3 separate regions of the Homo sapiens genome follow, and regions 2 and 3 are each linked to region 1. The links come from fine-mapping of genetic effects on gene expression. A gene starts in region 1. Each other region holds a variant in brackets. All regions are shown on one strand. Distances are between the middles of the regions.

Region 1 (8,185 bases):
GAATAATAATTCTCATATTTAGTCCCGTAGTTTTAGTTATACTCTTTAAATTAAAACTACTTTATGCATAGAATTACTTTATTATTATTATTATTATTTTTTGAGACAGAGCCTCACTCCATCACCCAGGATGGAGTACAGTGGTGCCATCTCAGCTCACTGCAACCTCCACCTTCTGGGCTCAAGTGATCCTCCCACCTTTGCCTCTAGAGTCGCAGGGACCATAGGTGTGCACCACCATGCCCTGCTAGTTTTTTTTTCTTTTGGTATTTTTTATAGAGGAGGGGTTTTGCTATATTGCCCAGGTTGATCTCGAACTCCTAGGCTCAAGCGATCTGCCCACCTCAGCCTCCCAAAGTGCTGGGATTACAGGTGTGAGCCACTGCGCCTGGCCCCCAATCTTCAATATTCCACTAACAGCGGTCAAAAATCTGTAATAAGACATATTTGGAGAGATACTGAGGTCATTGATTTTTTCAAGTCATTTCTACTTTTACTTATGTCCTATGACTTATTGAAAATATGTAGTCTGGCAGGGCGCGGTGGCTTACGCCTGTAATCCCAGCACTTTGGGAGGCTGAGGTGGGCAGATCACGAGGTCAGGAGATCGAGACCATCCCGGCTAAAACGGTGAAACCCCGTCTCTACTAAAAATACAAAAAATTAGCCGGGCGTAGTGGCGGGCGCCTGTAGTCCCAGCTACTTGGGAGGCTGAGGCAGGAGAATGGCGTGAACCCGGGAGGCGGAGCTTGCAGTGAGCCGAGATCCCGCCACTGCACTCCAGCCTGGGCGACAGAGCGAGACTCCGTCTCAAAAAAAAAAAAAAAAGAAAAAAAAAAAAAGAAAATATGTAGTCTTGGTTATCATAGTCTTATAAACGTCCTCCCCAAGGTATAGCTTAATGTTATAAATGACCTATTGTCCTGTAGTCCTCACAAATCTTTAACGTTACAAAAACCAGTCAAGCAGTCTGAAACATCAGAAATCATCCTTTCTAAACAGAGAGGTAAAAATGTCTCCCGAATGAAGAAAAGAGTCTTTGGTGCATCAATTTTTTGTGCGTTTCTCACAGCATTCCTTTTTTTCCTTATATTGAAGATGTTCATATATACCAGTGAGATATATTTGTATCTGCTATGTATTTAGTGTGTATATACATAGTATACATGTATATGCATTCTATATACACATATTTATTTATATAGTGTGTGTATATATACACATAATCTATGTAGAGATATAGCATATCTATGTACACTCATTCACTGTTATATATCAGTAAGAATCTTCAATATAAGGAAAAAAATTATGGAGATACATTATAGCTATCAGTATATATACATACTATGTAAACAAATATATGTATATATAGTTTCTATACATTTATATTATATACATAATATATAATCATGTATATACACAATATAATATAATATACATAATATATATACATAATATTATATAACAATTTGCATATGCATAATTATATGGAATGTATATGCATAGTATATATATACATAATGTATAATGTATATATACATACATATATAGTATAATGTATCTAGTGTGTATATATACATTATATATTATATATGTAGTATATATTATGTATATATGTAGTATATACTATGTATATAATATATACATAATATGTATACATAATACGTATGTGTATACATAATGTGTATACACAATATGTATATAATGCTATATATTCTGTACATTATGTATTATGTATATAGTGTATATACATATATATTATGTATATATCAAATGTCAGGTAGACTCTTGATATTTGTGATTCATCTTTCTGAATCCCCAAATCCACACTTATGGAAATCTTACACGTTTCTAGCTTTCCCCTGAATCATCTTTTTTGTGGAAAGTCACTTGTTAGCCAAATAAGAAACCTTACACTCCAAATCAGAAACTTCAACTTTCAAGATTTCCATAGGCCTGGAGACTTTTTATATATCGAAACTTCCCAATCATTTTTTAAAAGTTATTTTATGAAGGTAAGGACATTCATGATGATGAATAAAGAATAACAAAGACAAAATGAGAGGCCCATGTGGAGTGGACTGGGTGAGTGAGGTAGGCTCGCCACTTACACAAGCTTGGGAGCAGCATCCGGATGTCAACCTGAGTTTACGTTTCAATTCCTGGCCTCAGCAGCATTTCAAATTACTACATGGCATAGATCTTTAGGGTTGCAAGTCAAGCCTGGAAATGTTAAGCTACCAAATGCACACTTTTCCAGTAGTGGTTCTATGGCTAATAATGTTAAGGTATCATTTTCTTGTCAGGTTTCTTTCTCTCTCAAGGATGAGCAAGATAATTCATATCTTACCCACCCAGGTCTTAAATTAGAAAGCTTGTGGTAAAGTTCCCTACTGTCAAATTTTAACACTGGGCTCAGAATTCCCATTGCAAATTTACACTTGTTTTTCCAATTAAAATGGGCTTTTGTGAGTCCCCTGCTGATAGCCATTGGCTTGATAAAAAGTAACTTCATTTGCAGCAAGGGTGTTTAGGGAACCCAGTGCAAGGCTGACTCTTCTGCTGTTGCCTTGAGCCCAGCTGTGCTGAAATATTAAACTTTAGTAAATTAGGTGAAATTGCAGCTTCCTGGCTGATACAATAATGCCTTTTTCTTTTTCTGCAAACCATGTTCAGCATTAGTTTTCTGCACAATTTTCTGCACTGAGATAAAAATTGGAATATCTTTCAAATCCAGGCAACTCTTCATTTTCTAGATGATTGTGCCATATTCTACTTATTTAACAAACGGCTTAAACTTTGAAATATGTAGAACTAGATTTCTGTATTATTCTATCACTACCTGAGTATAGCATTACTTTATGTCATACTCAGATGAAGCAACTGAATCCCTACAAATATTAGTTTTATATAAAAGTAGAAGCCTGTTTTTATTCCTGATTAGTACATATATTAACAGCAGTGATGAGCTATAGAAGGAAATCACATTCCTAGTCACATTTATTTTTAGTTTTTTTGCTCCATTTTCTCTTTAAAAATAACACTAGTTCTTATGTGCTTTTATTCATTGACTAAACATTTATTGATCAATTATTATGTGCAAACTTCTGTTTTGTATTCAACAAGATGTTTTTAGAGTAAATCCGGAATTAGCAGAAAGAGACTAGGGACACTGGTATCTCTTGCCTTGATATATGTTTTCTTGTGATGGAATCTTTGGTGACAGCTTTATTTGGCTGTCTGGCCTGGTTGCTCCCAAATGGCTCTCACTTGGGCCTCTTTCAGGTGAAGACCATATGCTTCTAGGAGATGTCAGTTGAAATATCATATTTTTGTTGCTTGGGAAAGTTAACTCATGAAAGCCTTTTCAAAATTGAAGTCATTTCAAAAGATCTTATCAAGGTACTCCCAAGATGGTGGAATCCAAGGGTTGCATTTGGAAAAATCTCGAAACTATACAAAAGTAAGAGTGAATAATTTTATAAGCCTGCATATAACCACAATGGAATTAAAACCTAGGGAAGTGGCTAAGTGGGGGCTTGGGCAGTCAGGATAGTTTAGGGCATAGAGAGTTGAGACCCACTTTTAAAAAAATAGAGAGCCAGTCTGTTTCATAGTGTCATTGGATCACTCTCCTGCAACAGATGAGATACTCGTAAATGAGATACTAACCAATATGATCTAGACCGTGGTTTAGTTCTGGCTGCCATAAGAAGGATACCATAGGCTGGGTGACCGAAAGAACAGAAATTTATTTTTCACAGTTCTGGAGGGTAAGAAACCCAAGATCAGTGTGCCAGCATGGTCAGGTTCTGGTGAGGGTCCTCTTCCTGCTTGGCAGAAAGCTGCCCTCGTGCTGTGTCTTTACACTGCACAGAGCAGAGAGAGAGGAGGCAAATTCCCCGCTGCCTGCTCTTATGAGGGAACTAATTCCACCAGGAAGCCTCCACCCCATGAACTAATCAGGTATGAAAGGCCCCACCTCCAGATACCACCACATTAGATTGGGGATTTGGGTTTCAACATATGAATTTTGTAGAGACACAAACATTCAGCCCATAGCAGTGTTAAAAGAAAAACATCAGACAAATTAAATTTAGCACAGTTTATTCGAGCAAAGGGTTCATGAATTGGGCAGCACTCACAACCAGAGGAGGTCCAGTGAGGTCCACCCCATGGTGTGAGCAGCAAAGCCTGATAGGCCAAACTCAGAAGCACAGTGGAGAAACTGATTGGCTATAGCTATGCAGGCTGCCTTGTGGGGCCTGGTATAATGAGTTGGTTGCCCATGATTGGCCAGTAGCCCCCTGTTCATTACAGCCTAATGTAGGTTTCCATTGTTAGGTGGGAACTCAACGTACAGAGACAGCCTCAAGCTAATGGCCTCTTGCTTATTTAAGAGCAGTATGCAAACTTTTCCTGGAAAGTTTCAAATGGTAAATATTTTAGGCCCTGTGGGCTATGCCACCTCTGTCATCACTACTCAATTCTGCCCTTGCAGCCCTAGATCATACAGCCATATGCAGTCACTGATAATACAAAGCCATGGGCATGGAGGTTTTCCAATAAAACTATTTGCAAATACAGGCAGGGGCTAAACGGGTCTCCAGGTAGTAATGTGCTCATGCCTAAAGGTCTCCTAGCCCCTCATACCAGTTCGCTGTCCCTCTGAATCTGGGTTGAAGTAAGCACAGGTTACTGCTTCTGTTCAGTGTCATGATCCACCCAGCAATTCCCCAGTCCCCAGCTTTCTTCATGCGTGGGAGGATCCAGCCAAGCGACTGCACAGTTTTGAAAGTTTTTGAAGCGGCCCCTTTTTCTCCTCTCCTCTCTCCGCAGGCAGAGTTGTGGTGTGGCTGGGTGGTCTGCGTGGGCGTCCGGGGGATTCGCGGGCACTCGGGACGAGGCGAGGGCGCAGAAAACTTGGAGCCCAATCAGCACGGAGTTGAGCTTCCGCGCCCCAACCTTCAGGTGACCCCGCGCGGCGGCGGCGGCAGCAGCAGTGGCAGCGGCGACCGGAGCCCGCAGCAGCTCCGAGCGCCTCCGGGAGGACAGGCGGCGAGCTCGGCGAATCGTCATCTGCCAGCCGATCGCGGCGCTCCGCGGGCCGGGGCCGGGAGCCCGGGGCGAGCCCGAACGCGGCTTCTTCTCCGCCCGCCGCGGAGACTCTGCCGGGTGGGCTGCGGGCGCCCCTCGCTGCCGCCTGTGAACGCTGTGGGTGCGCGGGGCTGCGGCCACGGCGGCGGTGGCGGCGGCGGCGGGAGCCGCGAGTCGGGGCCGCCCGGGCTGTGCTTCGCCCCGGCAGCAGCGGTGGCGGCGGCGCCTGTGGCTCAGGATGCGGCCGGGGGGCGCACTGCTCGCCCTGCTCGCCAGCCTGCTGCTGCTGCTGCTGCTGCGCCTGCTCTGGTGCCCGGCAGACGCGCCCGGCCGCGCCAGGTAACCCACCCACCCGCCGGCCGCGCCCCGCGCCGCGCGCCCCGCCTGGCGCCCCCGGACCCCCAAGCCGCCCATCGCTTCCCCTCGGGCGCGGAGACTTTTGGCCGCGGCGGGGAGCAGCCCACGGGCGGCGACGGCCTGAGAGTGGAGTGGGGGAGGGGGTCGCAGGGAGGCGACCCTCCGACCGGTGGACGGCGGCTGGGGAGCAGAGGGACCGGTCAGGGCTGCGGGGGCTCTAGCGCGCATCGCTGTGGGCGAGGCAGCTGTGGAGCGGGACCTGCCGTCGGGTTCCGCATCAGGATCTCATGCTCCCCATTCTGGTCCTTGCTGTCTCTTCCTTCCCGCCCTAAGGCTCTTCCAACTCTGGGGCTGGGGACCTGGCCTGGGAGCCGGGGAGTGCGAGATCTCCCTGCCAGGCAAGGAGCGCGACTCCCAGCCTTTCAGCCAACAGCTCCCGGCGGGGTGTAGCAACTTAAGTTTTCTCCCCGGCTGTGCAGGATTCTGGTGGAGGAAAGCAGGGAGGCCACCCACGGCACCCCCGCAGCGCTGAGGACGCTCCGGAGCCCGGCGACCGCGGTACCGCGCGCCACTAACAGGTACAGCGGCGCCCAGCGCGGGCGGACTGGGGCTCGGGAGCTGCGAGCCGGGCATGGGGCGCGGCTGCACCGGCTTGGACTCGTTGGGAGTAGGCAGGCTGGGACGGCGCGAGTGAGTGTAAGAGTGTGCGTGTGTTTGAAGAGGGCGCGGGGTTGGGGGGGGGCACCCTTCACACTCCCTCAACCCTCTAAGCCTGGATGTGAATGGTCTTTGAATCAAGGGGGATCCTCCAGCAGCTGCATTTGAAAAACGGGTGCTGAGTTTTCCTCTCGACAATGGTGTGTTGAAAGCACCCCCGCCCCCGACCCCGCCACCTTTGGAGAGAAGCAGCTCAGCCTGTCTTTATGGAGGGATTTGGTTGGTTTGCTTTTTCTTTTCTATGCTTTAAAGGGCACCGGTGTTAAGATTCAGGTTTGTTTTGCGTGCTAGGAATGATTTTGTCCTTAGTGACTGGAGGCTTAAATTTTTTTTCTTATCATTCACATGTGTTTTTATTCATAGGCAGTAATTGTTTTTTTTTCAGATTGTAAAAGTAATACAGCTTTGTGCAGAAAGTTAGAAAATAGAACTGTATAAAAGAAAATGTTATTCATTCAGAGTCCTTACCTCTCAGAGACCATATTCAAGGTGGTTTTGGTCTATATTTCTTCCAGTAGTCTTTTCTATATACATATATTTCAAAAATATAACTTAGATTATACATTGCAGTTTATGTTCTGCCTTTTTTCTAAAAATCCTAGACCTATACCTGTCATTACATTCCCCTCCCCCCACAAAAACATTGCTTTGGATTGTTGCATAACTTATTATCTGAACATGCCATAATCTATTTAATAGTTTCCATTTTCAGACATTTAGGTTGCTTCTTGTTTCTGTTTTATTTTGTTTGCCATCAGTAATTCTATGAAATGCATCCTTGTATGTAAATCTTTATCTTCATTTCAAATTAATTACCCAAGATGGACAGACAGGAGTTGAGATTAGTAAGTCAAAGAGTATGTACTCTTTAGATTCTAAGTCACATTGTCAGTTGCTTCCTCGAAGGGCTGAATCAATTTACATTTTCACAAGCAGAATGTACTGCTTCCTGCCTTAGCATTGCTATTATGATTGCAATCTGCTATACGGTCTCTTTTCCTCTTTTTATCTCTTGCAAATCCCTTTTCTTCTGCGTATGCTTCTCTATATTCTTGGCTCTTGGATCCACCTTAATCTTCTGATGGTGTAACTCCAGGAAGCTCTAGCACGGCTCTAAGAAGGGTCTGGAAGTGGCTGGATAAACCCTGAATTGAGGAACACCACTGCCTGCCACCCCCTCATTGGAATTTCACAGCATATTAGAGGCACTAGGACCTCCTGGAGTAACAAAAGCTTTTGAGAAAAATAGTGTCCTATAGTTTTATTCTATTCAGGTTGGTGTACTATAGGTAGCCTAGCTTTCTTGATGAGCTGAGAAGCATTCCATCTTTTCCCGAGTCCTGTGGCTATTACACATTCGAGGGTTGACCCTTGGGGAAAGTTGGAAAGAATGTACTCATTAAATGGTTTGATCTCAGGTCGTTTTTAGAGGTAATCTTTGATGAATTTTTCACTTTCTTTTGACATACTTCTTTTCTACTTGGCATACTTCTTGGGCTAATATAGGTAACTCATAATTCTGAATATGGCCCATTTTATTAAGCTTTCTAAAATTTATACCATTCTGTGTTTGTAAAAGCCTCTTTATGTTTTGATTTATTTTATGTCCCCTTTATCATTTATGATTTTGGTTATTTATGGAGCAGGGGTGCAAGTTTTAATCCACCATACTACTTGGTTGTATAGAGAAATTGTAATTTCTTCATTTTTCTGGAGCTGGTCTGATCTTCCCACATGAGCCTCATGGTAATAATGCTGGTAGGAATAAGGAGAGCCAACAGTTAATGAACTCTTCTTATGGGCCAGACACTGATCTAAGCACTTGACATTTTTAATTTAAAAATTTTTCAAAATAGGTTTAGGGGGTAAAGTGCATTTTTGTTACATGGATATATTGCCTAGTGGTGAAGTCGGCATTTTAGTGCAACCGTCACCCAAATAGGGTGTACTCATTGTACCCAATGGATAATTTCTCAGCTCTCCCCTCACTCTCACTCTCCCACCTTTCTGTGTC
Region 2 (8,185 bases), 110 kb before region 1:
TCTGATAAACTATAAATTGTAACTGGCAACAGAAAAAAATACCTAGTCTAAACAAATCTACTCTCTACCATACCTTAGTACCATGCTACTCAACTATTTTCTAGCAAAACAAAAACTTTTGAGGTGTGGGGTTCGGTTAACAAGTGATTTTGGCATGATTTTTCAAAAGAGCTGTTAAGCTACAGAATTCACTAAGCCATATAACAACTTTATTAAAGAACTATCCATATGCCAACACTGTGCTCTGGGCATGAAGGCATAAAAGGTTGTTCCTGCTCTCAAGGGGATTACAGTCTTTTTTTTTTTTTAAAGGACAAATCAACTTGCAATTAAAAATGTACATGTCAAGTGCTTTGCGAATATGCTATTGGAGTACGGAAGAGGGCCAATTAACTCAGGAGAGACTCTGCAAAGGAGGGCAGGCTGGAGCTGAGTCTTGAGGGATTACGTAGATTTTATTTACACAAAATATAAATAGATGTTTGTTTATTTTTAAAATTTTTTTCTGTGCTGGGCAGAGGCAACAGCAGCCTGACCAAAGGCATAGGGTTCTGAAGGAGTTTGATGGGGAAAATGCTGTGGTTTGCATATGAGTCCCTTCAAAACTCCTATATTGTTACATAAAGCCCAAGGTGATGGTATGAAGAGGTGGGGCTTTTGGAAGGTGACTGGATAGGATTGGTGTCCTTATAAAAGGGCTGGAAGGAGTGAGTCTGTCCCTTTTTTGCCCTTGTAAAAATGCATCAAGAAAGTGCGACTGGGCCGGGTGCGGTGGCTCACTCCTGTAATCCCAGCACTTTGGGAGGCCGAGGTGGGCAGATCACAAAGTCAAGAGATCGAGACCGTCCTGGCCAACATGGTGAAACCTCGTCTCTACTAAAAATACAAAAATTAGCTGGGCGTGGTGGCGGGTGCCTGCAGTCTCAGCTACTCAGGAGGCTGAGGCAGGAGAATTGCTTGAACCTGGGAGGCGCAGGTTGCAGTTAGCCGAGATTGCACCACTGCACTCCAGCCTGGGTGACAGGGAGAGACTCCATCTCAAAAAAAAAAAAAAGAAAAAAAAATGCACCTGTAATCCTAGCACTTTGGGAGGCCGGGGTGGGTGGATCACTTGAGGTCAGGAGTTCCAGACCAACCTGGCCAACATGGTGAAACCATGTCTCCATTAAAAATACAAAAATTAGACAGGCATGGTGGCACATACCTATAATCCCAGCTACTTGGGAGGCTGAGGCAGAAGAATCACTTGAACTTGAGAGGTGGAGGTTTCAGTGAGCCGAGATCACGCCACTGCACTCCAGCCTGGGCAACAGAGGGAGACTCCATCTCAAAAACAACAACAACAACAACAACTAAATTTTGACATATGAATGCATCCTATGGCCATAAGCTCTCAGACTTTCTTTTCTTTGGTTTGATCTTGGGCTATGAGATAGTTTACATGTATCCATCAAAGAGAAACCTGCTGTTATTGGCTGTAGAGTAGTTAATCAATAATTCTGTTTTTCTTTATGATATTGGGTAGGGTATTTTCAGTGTTTATTGATATGATAATTTGAAACCAAACCTATGAAGTTTTTTTCTTAGATGAAAAAATGAAGTCTAATCAGGAAGAAGGGAGATGACAGGTAAGAGAATAGAAGAGTTTATATTGAAAGAGAAAGAATGGAATCAAGGTTTTCTGTATGGGGGCTACAACATTTTAACTTGAGATTTTCTTTCCTGTTGCGTTCCAACTTGTTTCCTTCTCATTTCTTGCTAAAGCTAATTAGAAATCCTCAAACTAGGACAGGCGTGGTGGCTCATGCCTGTAATCCCAGCACTTTGGGTGGCTGAGGCAGGTGGATTACTTGAGGTTAGGAGTTTGAGACCAGCCTGGCCAACGAGGTGAAATCTGATCCCTATTAAAAATACAAAAATTAGCCGGGTGTGGTGGTGGGTACCTATGATCTCAGCTACTGCGGAGGCCGAGGTATGAGAATCACTTGAAGCTGGGAGGCAGAGGCAGCAGTGATGCAGTGAGCCACGATCATGCCACTGCACTACAGCCTAGTCTGGTCAACAGAGTGAGACACCATCTAAAAAAAAAAAAAAAGGAACTCCTCAAACTAAAAGCAGGTAGTAGAGTAAAGCTAGCTACTTTAACCAATGTATCCAGAAGTCTCAGCAGGTTAACATAAAATCAAAAAGGATGGGCGTATAACCCACCTCCGTGCAGTGGATCCAGGGACCTAGGCTCCTTCTATCTTATGGCTATGCTGTCTTTAACATATGCCTTTCAAGATCAACATGACTGTCTTTATCACTCTAGCACAGCAGAAGAGACACACAAATTTGCATGCAGGCAGTTTTTATGGGCCAGATGTGGAAGTAGTATTCATGGATGTTCCACTGGCAAAAACATAGCTGCATAGCTAAAACAAATTATATACAATGCTGGTGCCCAGGAAAGTATAGAATGGTACTTTAGAATCGCATTAACATGGCCAGATGTGGTGCCTCATGCCTGTAATCCCAGCACTTTGGGAGGCTGAGGCGGGCAGATCATTTGAGGTCAGGAGTTTGAGACTGGCCTGGCCAATATGATGAAACCCTGTCTCTATTAAAAACACAAAAATTAGCTGGGCGTGGTGGCGTGCACCTGTAAACCCAGCTACTTGGGAGGCTGAGGCAGGAGAATCGCTTGAGCCCAGGAGGCAGAGGTTGCAGTGAGCTGAGATTGTGCCGCTGCACTCCAGCCTGGGTGACAGAGTAAGACTCAGTCTCAAACAAAACAAAACAAAAAAACAAAACAAAACAAAACAAAGAATTGCATTGACAGTGATTACTAAGATGACCGTTTTTTTCAACGTTTGCATCTATGGAATTCTTGATGCTTTAAAAATAAATTTCAAAGAGCTGTTTATCTAATAGGGACATTTATTTTTCATCTATTGCTTCTCCTGCAAGTTTTCTTCCTCTCTCTGGTTCCTTATAGTTATGGGCTTCCAACACCCCCTCCGCAGTGGACACACGTGCTTTGGCATATGCAAGCTGATTATATTTTGCTTTGTGATGTCTCTCTCTATAATTTGAAACTATAGAAATCCACATTTAGAGGGATCTATATGGGGCTTTGTATTTTATGCCATTGATCTACATGTTTATTTTTTCCATCAATTCTGCCCAGTAGGTAGTTGAAAGGTATTACAGAGATGAGGGAACAATGTATATGATGAAAAAAAGAATCAACCAGTTAAGTTTGCGTTCAATTTCCTTATTCAGTTGATTTGATTTCAGTCTCTCAAATAACAGCTGAGCGTGTGTGTCTGTGTGACTGTGGCAGGAAGATGAGGAGGTGGGGATGGACAAATGAAAGTAGTGAGAGATTGTGGAGGACTGAGATAGAGCTAGTAAAGCTGTGAGCTGCTAAATTGTTTGGGGTTCATGCTGTTGAAGAACAAAATTTCAACATATTTTGTTAAAATATCAAATTGGCTTTTATTAGCAATTCATGAATTAGGTAGCATCTCATTTATGAAATAGAAAAGACCCTCCAATGGGCTGAGCAGAGGAGGTGGGCTTTATAGGCATACAGAGCTGCAGAAGCAGAAACAGGGAACAGAAAGCCAACTGGTCATTTCCAAGTTACTCTACTTCTAGGATTCAGGCTGAGAGAACTTTCTCATCATGCCTATTCAGGGTGACTAGGCTCCTTTTGACTGGCTGCGGTGAGTTTCCTATTCCTTGGAAAACCATTTTAAAGTTCAGTTTGACTATGTGGTACTTAGCATGACTGACTCCATTCTGGTTTGCTCTGGTTTGTTGGGGCTTAGTGCAGGAGCTCAGTCCAAAACAACGCCCTCCTATTAAATTTCATTTGGCAAAGCAATAATGATTCTATATTTGTGTATTGATTTCATGAATTCCAAACAGCTTCTGAATCGTCAGACTTGTTGGAGCACAACGTTGTATTTGATTATTAATATCTGATTTAAACAAGGTTGCAAAATGAGTCATCAATGGCAGTGAACTAAATTCAGGTTCTCATATTTTCCCTAAAACTAATCAAGCGAACAACCTAGAGAGGTATTAAAATTAAGGACACATAAAAATGCTGTCAGGAAGGTAGCAGTGTGGTGTTTAATACAATAATTTTGCTTCTTAGGAAGACAGGATAAGTGACTTTTTGAATAAACACTGCAGTAATTGTGTATAGAATTCATATTTCTTCATGCTGAAAGACAAAAAAAGGAATTACTTTGAGTGCAAAGAAATTTATAGCTCAGTTTTAAGTATGCATTGAAAAGTGGAATTAAAGCTTCCTGAAGCCTATTTGAATTTATAATGAAGGAAATTCAGAAGTAAAGCAGTGTCGACTTGATATTCCCAATGTTGTGACCCTTCCTAAAACTCTTTGGGTTTCTTTATCATATAAAATTTGCTTGCCGCAGAAATATTGGCAGTATATGAAATCTGGACGGAATCCAGAACCTAGTACAGTCCAGGGAAAAATGTTCTTTCGGGCGCTGAATATATAGAGGCATGACACAAACAAGCCTTCATCTATTTATCATAGTTCATGGTCTGGTCATGTCCCCTGCCAAAGCTTTTCTGGGAAGCCGTAAGACGAAAATGATTTGCTGGCCTAGCTTCTGACTTGACTTCATTCCTCTCTGTGGGGGATCACTTTACATTTTCTTAATTGCAGGGACAGCTTGTGTGGTTGGCAGTTGTTTGAATTGAGAAATGGACTTTAA[G/T]GAACTACGGTTTCTTTGGCTCAGCTGGAATTTAAGTAGTCATAGACTAAATTAACAGCCACGGTCAAAGCCCAGATGACAGCTGTGTCACAGAAAAGGAAAGGTAAGGGTTTATTTTGTGCTACTATATTAGGATCATGCTCTTAAAATAATGAGTTTTGCAACTTCACACTTTTGAGTCATACTGCCATTTTTTAAAGGTACCAAAAGGCTCCTCCAAGGTAATGTTACGAACCTCAGGTGTCAGGATAGGAAATGTAGCCTGGCCGATTGCAGATAGTAATTTGTTTTAATCTTGTGATTTATAATACGTAGTTTTTGCTTCATTGTGACCGAATGCAATAGGTCGTGAACATTATTTCCATTTAACATCTAAGGTTACAAATGTGAATAAAGTTTAAGTCGCATGGACGAACAGAATAAAAATTAGAACTGTCATCCTTAACCTTTAATTTTACAAGTGGTACCACCTCTACTACTTCTACGGACATCACAAACATTTGTTCTTGCATTTTAAAGACCTTATGCAAATTAAGGCTAGGCACGGTGGCTCATGCCTGTAATTCCAGCACTTTGGGTGGCCGAGGGGGGTGGATCATGAGATCAGGAGTTCGAGACCGGCCTGGCCAACATGGTGAAACCCCATCTCTACTACAGTGACCGGATGGTCGCTCTTCTTGCACATTAAATTTTCATAGGTAGAGTGGGGTTCAGGAGTCGCTTGCTTCAGTGCTAAAATAATGTCACATGCATCCCACCTCTCTGTTCTACTGCAGGGTGGGCTATGTTTTCAGGCCTTAAAAAAGTGACCAGTGATGGTTTCAGGCTCCTCGGTTTAGTTAAAAGAAGTCCAATTTCAAACATGTCCTTCCTCCATTAAAACCAGTGGAAGTGGGGAAAACAACTCTCTTCAGAAACCCTCGAACACCGCAGGATTCAGTGAGTTTGTGTATCTGCTCTTGAACCAATTACTGTGGACGAGTGCATGAAATAATTTGGCTGTGCGAATCAGGGTCCATTTCTGAGGCTAGAGATGGAATTTATGTCACCCAAACCACATGGTTGACAATAAAGTTTCCTTAAAAAAAGTTGGTGTCATAATAAAGGGAGATAATATTTGCTACCAAATAGCGACATTGCATTTATACCATGCTAACAATTAAGAACAAGTACAGAAAACTTTTGCTTCTATACAGAAGTCGGTAAGTAGCAGCAGGTCATAGCTTCTGCTGCAACAATTAGAGCAAGCAGATGAATGACAAAAATCATAGTTTTAAAGACCATGGAGAGACGATCAAGCAAAGAGAACCAGACCAGTGGTTCTCATGCTTTCACATGTGTGAGAATCATCCAGAGGGCTTGTTGAAACAGACTGCAGGGGCCCATGCTGCAGAATTTATGAATCAGTAAGTATGAGTTGGCATTTATTCTGTAATTCTGCAGTAAAGGCAATAAGTCAAGTTGGGGAATGGTGAAAAGAACAAAGGTAGAAAGGACTTGGCATTCCTATTTCAACTTTCTTCAAAGAGTGGAAAAGCTGTTATTTGAAAAAAGGATTTACTTTATTTAGTGTGGTTCTTAAAGGTTGCTGTGGTTTGAATATTGAACATTTGTCTTCTCCAAAACTCACGTTGAAATTTATTCTTTTTCTTTTGAGATGGAGTCTCGCTGTGTCACCCAGGCTAGAGTGCAGTGGCCCCATCTTGGCTCACTGCAATCTCTGCTTCCCGGGTTCAAGCGATTCTCCTGCCTCAGCCTCCCGAGTAGCTGGGACTACAAATGCGTGCTACTGTGCCCAGCCAATTTTTGTGTTTTTAGTAGAGACAGGGTTTCACTATGTTGGCCAGGCTAGTCTCAAACTCCTGACCTCAGGTGATCTACCCGCCTAGGCCTCCCAAAGTGCTGGGATTACAGGCGTGAGCCATCGTGCCTGGCCTCAGGTTGAAATTTAATTCCCAAGGTGGCATCATTGAGAGGCAGGCCCTTTAAGAGGTGTTTCAATCATGAGGGCTCGGCCCTCATGAAGGGATTTCTCCATCACAGATTAATGGATTAATGGATTATCATGGGAGGGGAGCTGGTGGCTTTACAAAAAGAGGAAGAAAGACCTGAGCTAGCACGTTGGTGTGCTCAGTCCCCTGGCCATGTGATACCGTGTGCCCCACTGGGACTCTGTGGAGTCCCCACCAGAAAGAAGCCTCTCATCAACAGATGAACGGATGAAAAAAATGTAGTATATATACACATACACAGGCCAGCATGGTGGCTCACGCCTATAATCCCAGCACTTTGGGAGGCTGGAGGTGGGCAGATCACTTGAGGTCAAGAGTTCAAGACTAGCCTGGCCAACATGGTGAAACCCCGTCTCTACCAAAAATACAAAAATTAGTGGGGGGTTGGTGGCAGGCACCTGGAATCCTAGCTACTTGGGAGGCTGAGGCATGAGAATTCTTGAACCCAGGAGGCAGAGGTTGCAGTAAGCCGAGATCGTGCCACTGCATTCCAGCCTGGGAGACAGAGTGAGACTCCATCTCAAAAAAAAAAAAAAAAAAGAGAAAAGTAAAAAAAGAAAATGTAGTATATATACACAATGGAATATCATTATGGAATTTTATTTCATAAATAAGAATGAAATCTTGTCATTTGCAGCAACATGGATGGAACTGGAGGCCATTATGTTAAGTGAAATAAGCCAGGCACAGAAAAGCAGATGCTCATGTTCTCACTCATGTATGGGAGCTAAAAACAGTGCAACTCATGAAGATAGGGAGCAGACTTGTGGTTACCAGAGGCCAGGAAGGAGTAGGGAAAGGGGATGAAGGGAAAAATAAGGATATAAATGTTTCTGAGGCATGGCTGGGTGCGGTGGCTCATGCCTGTAATCCCAGCACTTTGGGAGGCCGAGGCAGGCAGATTACTTGAGGTCAGGAGTTCGAGACCAGCCTGGCTGACACGGTGAAACCCCATCTCACCTAAAAATACAAAAATTAGCCAGGCATGGTGGCGCGTGCCTGTAATCTCAGCTACTGGAGAAGCTGAGGCAGGATAATTGCTTGAGCCGGGAAGGCGGAGGTTGCAGTGAGCTGAGAAAATGCCACTTGATTCCAGCCTGGGCGACAGAGCGAGACTCCATCTAAAAACAAAAAATGTATTTGAGGCAAGATGGGTAGTCAAGGAAATGACCACGTTCTTGGGACGTAGCAACCGTGGTGACTGTACAGTCAACACAATAAGCCTCAGCATTTGCATTGTAGTTGAGCTCATTCAAGCAAAGTTATCTTCAGTAGGGACTTTCTCCTCGAGAGTGCACACATATTTTGATTTTACCTGTCCTCAAACTCACCCTTTGATCATTATAATAGTAAAAAACACACCCCAGTGTGGAGATTTAAGATGCTAATGAGACATATGATGTATGAAGAAGCATGTACAGCTACTGTACATGT
Region 3 (8,185 bases), 52 kb before region 1:
CTTCGCTACCGAAGATGGGAACTGGACCAAATAATCCCTTAGGCTCACTGCAAAACAGCAATACTTCTATCCAGCTGCTAAAATTTTGTACGATGTCTCTGGGCAGGATTATTGTCTTTTAACATTCCCTTCTTTTTTCAAATATTATACAATGATAATTTATTGCTAGTTAAAATTATTTAACCAAGAATTTGCACTATTAGTACTTCTTTTTTTCCCCAGCTAAAGAATTGCTGAAATGTTGGCATTACAAATTTAAGAATTTTTGCTAACATAACTCTGCTTTCCATATGTTATTTCAAAAATGGGCTGGGCATAGTGGCTCATACCTGCAATCCTGGCACTTTGGGAGTCTGAGGCAGGAGGATCGCTTGAGCCTGGGAGGTCGAGACCAGCCTGGACAACATAGCAAGACCCCATCTCTACAAAAAAAAAATCAGATGGGCATGTTGGCACGTGCCTGTGGTCCCAGCTACACAGGAGGCTGAAGCAGGAGGATTGATTGGGCCCAGGAAATCAAGGCTGCAGTGAGCTGTATTTGTGACACTGCACTCCAGCCTGGATGACACAGTGAGACCCTGTCTCAAAAAAAATTTTTTTAATGTAGTAAAATGTGTAGAATTAATGATCTTGATCCTAAATCATTAGCAACACTGTCAACTTGAAGCACTAGAACAGAAAAGAGAAGCTGTTCTCTGGTATCACAAAGGCCACCAAAACTCTTGTTTGCGGTTAGTGCTGTGAGAGGTTCAACTTTAGAGTCCCAAGTTCCTTGTGGGTTGTGAGACCACAGGCCAGTTTTTTAGTATCTCTTTTTTGCTACCTGTAAAAGGAGAGTTGCTTTATGAATTAAATAACTGCAAAGCTTTATAGATAGCGTCACACTGTAAAGGGTAGATATTTACCAGCATTTTATAAATTAATTGTGCTAACAGAAGGAAATTCTTTTCCAATATTTTTTTCTCTGATTAAAAATATTTTTATTTGTCATATCATAGTCTCTGGCTACAGATTGCCAAATACAAGCTGTTATTTTATTTGCAATAATTTTCATTATCTTAAATTCAAATCTCGATATAATGTGATACATTTGCTATGTTTTGATTCTTTAAAACAGGATGTTTTTATTAGAATAGTCGTACTCTAGCCACAGTAAGAATGAAAAAATTGAAAGACTCAAAAACAAGTCATCATTACTTTGTTTATTTTCATCCAAGTATAATACGTACTTGAATATCATCTCTAAAATACCATTTCTACCAAATGAATTTGTTCACTAGTGTGGAAATATAGAAGGGAAAATAAAATTAAGGAAACTTTTAAGGAATTATTAGAAGTTAGACGTGTGTTTTTGACAACAAAGCAGTGGAAATGCCTCAACACTGTGAACAATTTAATAGGGTAATATTTTAAAATCTATACTTTAATAAATATCAATTATATACACAATTAAGTTGGTTTTTCAAGAACCTGATCTAGACACAAAAACAAGGATGTGCAAATCCCAATTTAAATTTTTTTATTTCATTACATACAGAATATTTTACTAAAGTTGCTTAATATACAATCTCTCTCTTGTCGCTTTGAAGACCTTTGTCATGAAAACAATAATTCATTTGCCTGATATTTTGCAATAACATTCTTCTCAGTTATTATATTTAGTCTCATTACTGAATAAAATTTGTGTTCTCATGAAACAGTTTTCAGTGTCTTAGCAGTTTCTGGGGAACTCTGATGCATTAATCAGCTTGTCACTTGACTAGCCCATAGAGTGGTGTGCCATGCAGAAGTGAGAAGATGTGGCTTTCTCACTGCAAAGCTTCCCATCCATTAGACTTGTGTGTATCTTTTCTGTCAGGAAATGTTCTGCAGTTTTGAGATAAGATTGCTTCATGTCTGACTGCTTAGTTGGCAATGATCACAGCTTGTGAGTTCGGTTTCACCAAAAATGTCCGTGGACCTCACCTGTAAACTTTAATCCATGCACTTTTTTTTTCTTTGAGGTGTAGTCTTGCTCTGTTGCCCAGGCTGGAGTGCAGTGGCACGATCTCAGCTCACTGCAACCTCTGCCTCCTGGGTTCAAGCAATTCTCTGCCTTAGCCTCCCGAGTAGCTGGGATTACAGGTGCCTGCCACCATGCCGGGCTAATTTTTTGTATTTTTAGTAGAGATGGGGTTTCACCAGCTTGGCCAGGCTGGTCTTGAACTCCTGACCTTGTGATCCACCCCCTTGGCCTCCCAAAGTGCTGGGATTACAGGTGTGAGCCACCACACCCAGCCTATTCCATGTACTTCTTACTTTGCCTTCCCTGGGAAATCAGTTTCCTGGAATATACCAAGGGGCACATTCTACTCCTTTTGCAGCATTCCCAGAAAACCATCGGCGTCCATGCATATGTATACATGTTTGCATATGCATGAACATAGTCATTCATTCTGGCTTCCTTTTCGAGTGGCTTGCGTCATTCTGCCGTGTATTTCCAGAGATTTCCCAGAGATTCCCCAGCGCCCCTCTGATGACTGGCTTATTAGCTTTGCTTGCCTTCATGTCTCTGTATCAATTTCCCCCGTCACCTATCTGTATTCCTTGCACCTTTCAAAAGACTGCCATTTTAGTCCCTTCCCCCAAACCCTGCAAACAGGAATGAGCTATTGTTTCTGTGTTGTATCGTTCAGCTTTCTGGGATTCTGCCATACGGTCTAAGTTTGGAAGTGTTCAGAAAACCCTTCAACTCAATCCCAGTTTGTCTGCTCTTTCTTCATCGTGTCAGAACTGGCAATGGCGTTCTGGTGGCTTGGATGGATACCGCTTTACTGCCTGATATAGTTTGGCTGTGTCCCCACCAAAATCTCATCTTGAATTGTAGCTCCAATAATTCCCATGTGTTGTGGGAGGGACCTGGTGGGAGGTGAATTACAGGGATGGTTTCCCCCATACTGTTCTTGTGGTAGTGAATAAGGCTCCCAAGATCTGATGGTTTTATAAGGGAAACCTCTTTCACTTGGTTCTCGTTTTTCTCTCGTCTGCCACCATGTAAGAGATGCCTTTCGCGTTCCGCCATGATTGTGAGGCCTCCCCGACCAGGTGGAACTGTGAGTCAATTAAACCTCTTTTTCTTTATAAATTATCCGGTCTTGCATATGTCTTTATCAGCAGCATGAAAATGGACTAATAAACTGCACATCTTTCAGGAAGCCACTGACTTACCCAGAAGTTTGTCCACACATCTGGTCTACTCACCAATCAAGGCACATATGTTGTCAAACTAGCTCTTCATTGTCACTGGGGACAGAGAACCTATTTCAATTCTCCATCTATTATTAAAGACTGTTATTTCTCATAATTCGCTGGGCTCAGTTGAGATGTTCTTCTGCTCCAGTGAGTGCGTGCTATGGTCACTCCTGTAGCTGCATTTAGTTTCTGCTGAGGCAGCAACATTCAAGTTGAGGTTGGTCGTTCACACATCTGGTACCTCAGCTGGGTGATGGGACTGGCTCGGCCTCTGTTTCTTTTCTTTTTAAATTTTTTTTTTTTTTTCAGAGAGAGGGGTCTGCTCTGTGGCCCAGGCTGGGGTGCAGTGGTGCAGTCATAGCTCACTGCAGCCTTGAACTCCTGGGCTCAAGTGATCCTCCTGCCTCAGTCTCTCAAGTAGCTGGGACTACAAGCACACACCACCATGTCCAGCTAATGTTTTATTTTCTATAGAGATTGGGTTTTGCTGGCCTGGAACTCCTGGCCTCAAGCGATTCTCCTGCCTTGACCTCCCAAAGCACTGGAATTACAGGCATAGACCACTGTCTCCATGTGGTTTCTCACCATGTTATAGTCTAGCCTATAATAAATGGCTTCCAAGAAAGCGAAAGTGGAAGCTACAAGTTCTTTTAAGGCCTTGGCTTAGAAGTCTAGGTGAAGTGATGTCCCATCACTTCCATTATGTTCTCTTGGTCAAAGCAAGATACAGCATAGCCCAGATTCAAGGGGGAGAGAGATAGATTGATGAATCTTGATGAAAGGAGTGGCTTGCACATTCAGGGACTGTGGCAATTATTGGCAACCATCTTTGGAAATGATCTACCATTGCACCTAATCACCCTCACTGGTGGTCAAAACATCTTGTTTCTTCTCCTTTCCTAATTACTTTGACTACTCTGGCCAGAGATTTACTTCCCATTTTCACTGGGTCTTCAATCTACAAAAGCTAGTCCTCTCTTGATAATATGCCTCTTTTATACATATTCGACAGGGCATAGCAGTACCAGTGGGTATGCAGCAGAGATATCACTTATATAACAGCATTGGTAGTACCTTTGGTAATTATTTAAATAGTTCCTTTTGTGCTTAAATCTAATTAATTATTTAAAACAAAACAAAACAAAACAAAAAAACTGTAGACTTCTCAAGATGAATCTGTTTACATAGTCTTTACGAGAACCTGGAAACTTTGCTGTAGCTATTCAACTGTTCCTGTCATATAATCCTCTTCGCGTCATTTTATAAGAGGCACACATAACAGGAAGTTCGAGCTGACTACTTGCAAAATTAGCCTCCTTTT[C/G]CTAGAATTTTAATGGGTGTGAGATCTAAGAAATTTATAGTTGCTCTTCTGGAGCTGCTGCTTGAAGCAACTAGTTGGCTTTGTCCTTGGGGAAACCTGTCGAGCCTTTCTGTCTCATTATCTCTCAGAGTTTTCTCCTAATGGAATAGGACGATGGACCTTAATGGTTTATCCTTCTTTCCCCATCCCCTCTCCTCAGAGAGTGCTTCTTGAATTAAAAACAGGTAGGAGATCAGTCTTCATGTAGAAGTGTTTCTTCCTTTTTTATCTTTTTTATTCTCCTCCTTTTTTTTTTTTTTGAGACAGAGTCTCACTCTGCTGCCCAGGCTGCAGCGCAATGGCATGATTTCAGCTCACTGAAACCTCTGCATCCTGGGTTCAAGCAATTCTTATGTCTCAGCTTCCCGAGTAGCTGGGATTACAGGCATTCGCCACCATGCCCGGCAAATATTTTTTTTTCTGTATTTCTTAGGAGAGACGGGGTTTTGCCATGTTGGCCAGGCTGATCTCAAGCTCCTGACCTCAGGTGATCCACCCATCTTGGCCTCCCAAAGTGCTGAGCCACTGTATCCGGCCTATTCCCCTGCCTTTTGTTATTATTTTAGTTCTAGGGAAAATATTTTCCCTAGCACCAAAATAATTTTGGGTCAGTATTGCAGAGATAAATTTTAAAGCCATGTTTTATATATCTTTAGTATGAAAAGAAATTATTTACTATTTGCCCTTTTCTCAGTAGGAATATCATTATTCAGATGACAGAAAGGTATGGCCTTTCACCTCATTTTACAGATATTTTGAAACCTCTTTTTGCTTCTCTAAAGGAGAAGTTCAAGGAGCAAAGGAATTTGCTTATTTAATTTGTTTTTTTATAGCTATGGAATAGAACCATTTAAAGAACAGCGGCCAGGCATGGTGGCTCACACCTATAATCCCAGCACTTTGGGAGGTCGAGGCAGGAGAATCACTTGAGCCCAGGAGTTTGAGACTACAGTGAGCTATGACTGCAGCCACTGCACTCCAGCCTGAATGACACAGTGAGACCCTGTCTCTGAAATAATAAATACATAAATAACAGGGAAGCTTTTCATCCTCACGTTACTATTGTTTGATTCCACATGACTTGCTTGGCCAGAATAAACCTAGTCTCATTCAACAGGTAAGGCAGATGCCAGGAAATGTCTATGTAAAGGCAGATGTTCTGAAGGGATACCATTGGCCAAGTGGGCAAGCATTAATTAGGGGGTCTGGTGAAAGTATTAGAGTGCTCTGAAACACTGGTCTGGCTTGGTGATGGAGATTGCTGGCACAAGTAATTTATGGAGCCCTAAGTGTGAACTGTTAGAGAAGTCTGTCATAGTTAGCGAGGACTCCAGCCACTACCAGGGTTTCAAGGCGGAAGTTGAAATTTTCCAAGCAGTTCATTAGCAGGAGCAAGACAGCACGTTAGTGCAAGAAGAGCTAAGTTTCTAGACAAGATTTCTCACTGGGTAATGAGAGAAAGACCATTTATCAGACATGCAACAGAGGCATCAGAATGCATTTTTACTGCTTGAGTTTGAACTCTTCAAATTCCTTCTAAGTGAGCTGTCTGCAGTGGTCACTTGGCCTCCTTCCTGAGAAGTGAAGACTTCACAGATTAGGGACCCTGCAAGCCTCATCGGTCGCAGTGCATTGTCTCTTGCACCAACTGTGACAAAGTATGTGAGAAGTTAGTGACTGTTTTTATAGTAAGAGATTTTCATACTTGTGATTCATATACTGCCATATTTTAAGTGGGGTTTTTGTCTCCAGGAAAATTTTTAAACGCTTTAAGTATAAAAATTCCTTCCTGTGTTTGACTCTGCAGGATGGGATGTAGTAGGTTACAGTAGTGGACAGAGGACGATGGGCATGAGGCTAGATTGTGGAAAGGGTTTAAGGATGTGTAAGATTCAATGAGAGGGGAGAAAATCTCACTAACTTTATAGTTGCAGTGAAGGTTGAATCAGATGTGGACCACTGCAATATCCATATCCACAGTTGATAGTCAAGACCCCTCATTTCCCAAATTAACTTTTTTTTTTTTTTTTTGAGCCAGGTCTCACTGTGTCACCCAGGTTGAAGTGCAGTGGCATGATCATAGCTCACTGCAGCCTCAACCTCCCAGGTTCAAAGCTATCCTTCTATCTCAGCATCCCCTCCTTCAAGTAGCCAGGACTACAGATGTACACCACCACACCCAGCTAATTTTTTGCAGAGATGGGTTTTTACCATGTTGCCTATGGTTGGTCTTGAACTCCTGGGCTCAAGGGCTCAAGGGATCCTCCCACCTTGGCCTCCCAAAGTGTTGGGATTATGTGATTGAGTCACCATGCCTGGGCCCAAATTAACTATTATTCACCAAACCCAGGCATTTACAATTTTATTACTCTAGACTTAGCTGAAAAGGCAAGGATTAAATGAATTGTATAGTCTGATCTCTTCCCAAGATAAATTTTAGAATTTCATAGACTGTAACAAGAATACAACTTCTAATAATATTTTTAAAATTCCGTCTCAGGTCAGGAAAATAAGATTGTGGGTTTTTTTTGCAAACTCATCTTTTCTGTCCTCGAGTCTGTCCTCAATTCAAGTCAACGAGCATATGTTAAGCACCTCTTGCACACTCCAGTGCCATGCTAAATGTTTTAAGCAAAGCCAAATCAGTCGAAGAGTTAACCTTAAGATCCATTCATTGAGCATTTCTTTTGCCAAACACCATGCTCGTTGCTTTATGTACATGTCTTATTTAACCCTCTCGATAATCCTTCGAGGTGTTGATCCAGTTACTACTGCTGTGCTAAAAATAACCCCAAAACTTGGTAGCTGAAAATGACCATTTTATCATGCTCGCAGCTTCTTTGGGTCAAGAATTGAGCTCATCTCTCTTCTCTTGCATTTTATCACAGACAGAAAGAAAAAGTCAAGTGGCTCTTTTAATATTTTCTGGGGAAATTTGCTTAGCTAGATCATCAAATTCCTTAAGCATATTTTCTACTTTTAAAATTTTTTTGTAATTATCATTTTCTCATTGTGTATTTTTAATTTTTTTATTAATAGTTTTTGGAGTACAGTTGGTTTTTGGCTACAGGGATAAGTTCTTTAGTGATGATTTCTGAGATTTTAGAGTATTCATCTGCAGAGCACTGTACACTGTACCCAATATGTAGCCTTTTACCCCTCACCAACCTCCCAACTCCTCCACAAAGTCCAGGACATCATTCTTATGCCTTTGCATCCTCATAGCTTAGCTCCCGCTTATAAGTAAGAACACACGATATTTAGTTTTCCACTCCTGAGTTACTTCCATAGAATAAGGGCCTCCAGCTCCATCCAAGTTTCTTCAAAAGACATGATTTCATTCCTTTTAATGACTGAGTAGTATTCAGGGTGTATATGTACCACATTTTTCATCCAACATTTTCTGTTTTTTTCACATTACCACATGTGACAGTGTGGCCAGACTTTCACCACTAGGCAAAATGATTTTGCTTTCCTCCAGCTTCTAATGACATTTTCCTTGCTTGTCTGCAAGTCCCCACCAACAGCCTTCTCCAGCCTAAGATGATAACAGTCTCCTCAAAGCCCGTTCAGCTGCTGCTAGACAGTGGTTTC

Alleles and levels. Alleles are on the strand shown, and positions count from the first base shown. SD is a standard deviation of normalised expression in the study named. Not every link is listed here.
For the expression in pancreatic islets of the gene that starts at base 4,996 in region 1, G is the low allele of the variant in region 2 and T is the other (large effect, 1.3 SD a copy in PISA).

Evidence for each region. PIP is the estimated chance that this variant, and not a neighbour inherited with it, causes the effect.
Region 2: its variant is fine-mapped to the expression of ST8SIA6 in pancreatic islets (PISA, PIP 0.95).
Region 3: its variant is fine-mapped to the expression of ST8SIA6 in whole blood (TOPMed, PIP above 0.99). The same link has a PIP of 0.9 or more in T cells and blood mononuclear cells.

The regions. Positions count from the first base shown.
Region 1 is chr10:17,451,406-17,459,590 of GRCh38, reverse strand. ST8SIA6 (ST8 alpha-N-acetyl-neuraminide alpha-2,8-sialyltransferase 6) reads left to right here and starts at 4,996. Exons shown (of 8, transcript NM_001004470.3): 1 at 4,996-5,436; 2 at 5,934-6,032. The coding sequence starts at 5,336.
Region 2 is chr10:17,559,256-17,567,440 of GRCh38, reverse strand. No RefSeq gene overlaps it. Among named protein-coding and RNA genes, the nearest start is that of HACD1, 54 kb to the left of the region's middle. RefSeq lists an enhancer at 4,497-4,791. The variant G/T (reference allele first, on the strand shown) is at 4,740.
Region 3 is chr10:17,502,978-17,511,162 of GRCh38, reverse strand. No RefSeq gene overlaps it. Among named protein-coding and RNA genes, the nearest start is that of ST8SIA6, 52 kb to the right of the region's middle. The variant C/G (reference allele first, on the strand shown) is at 4,553.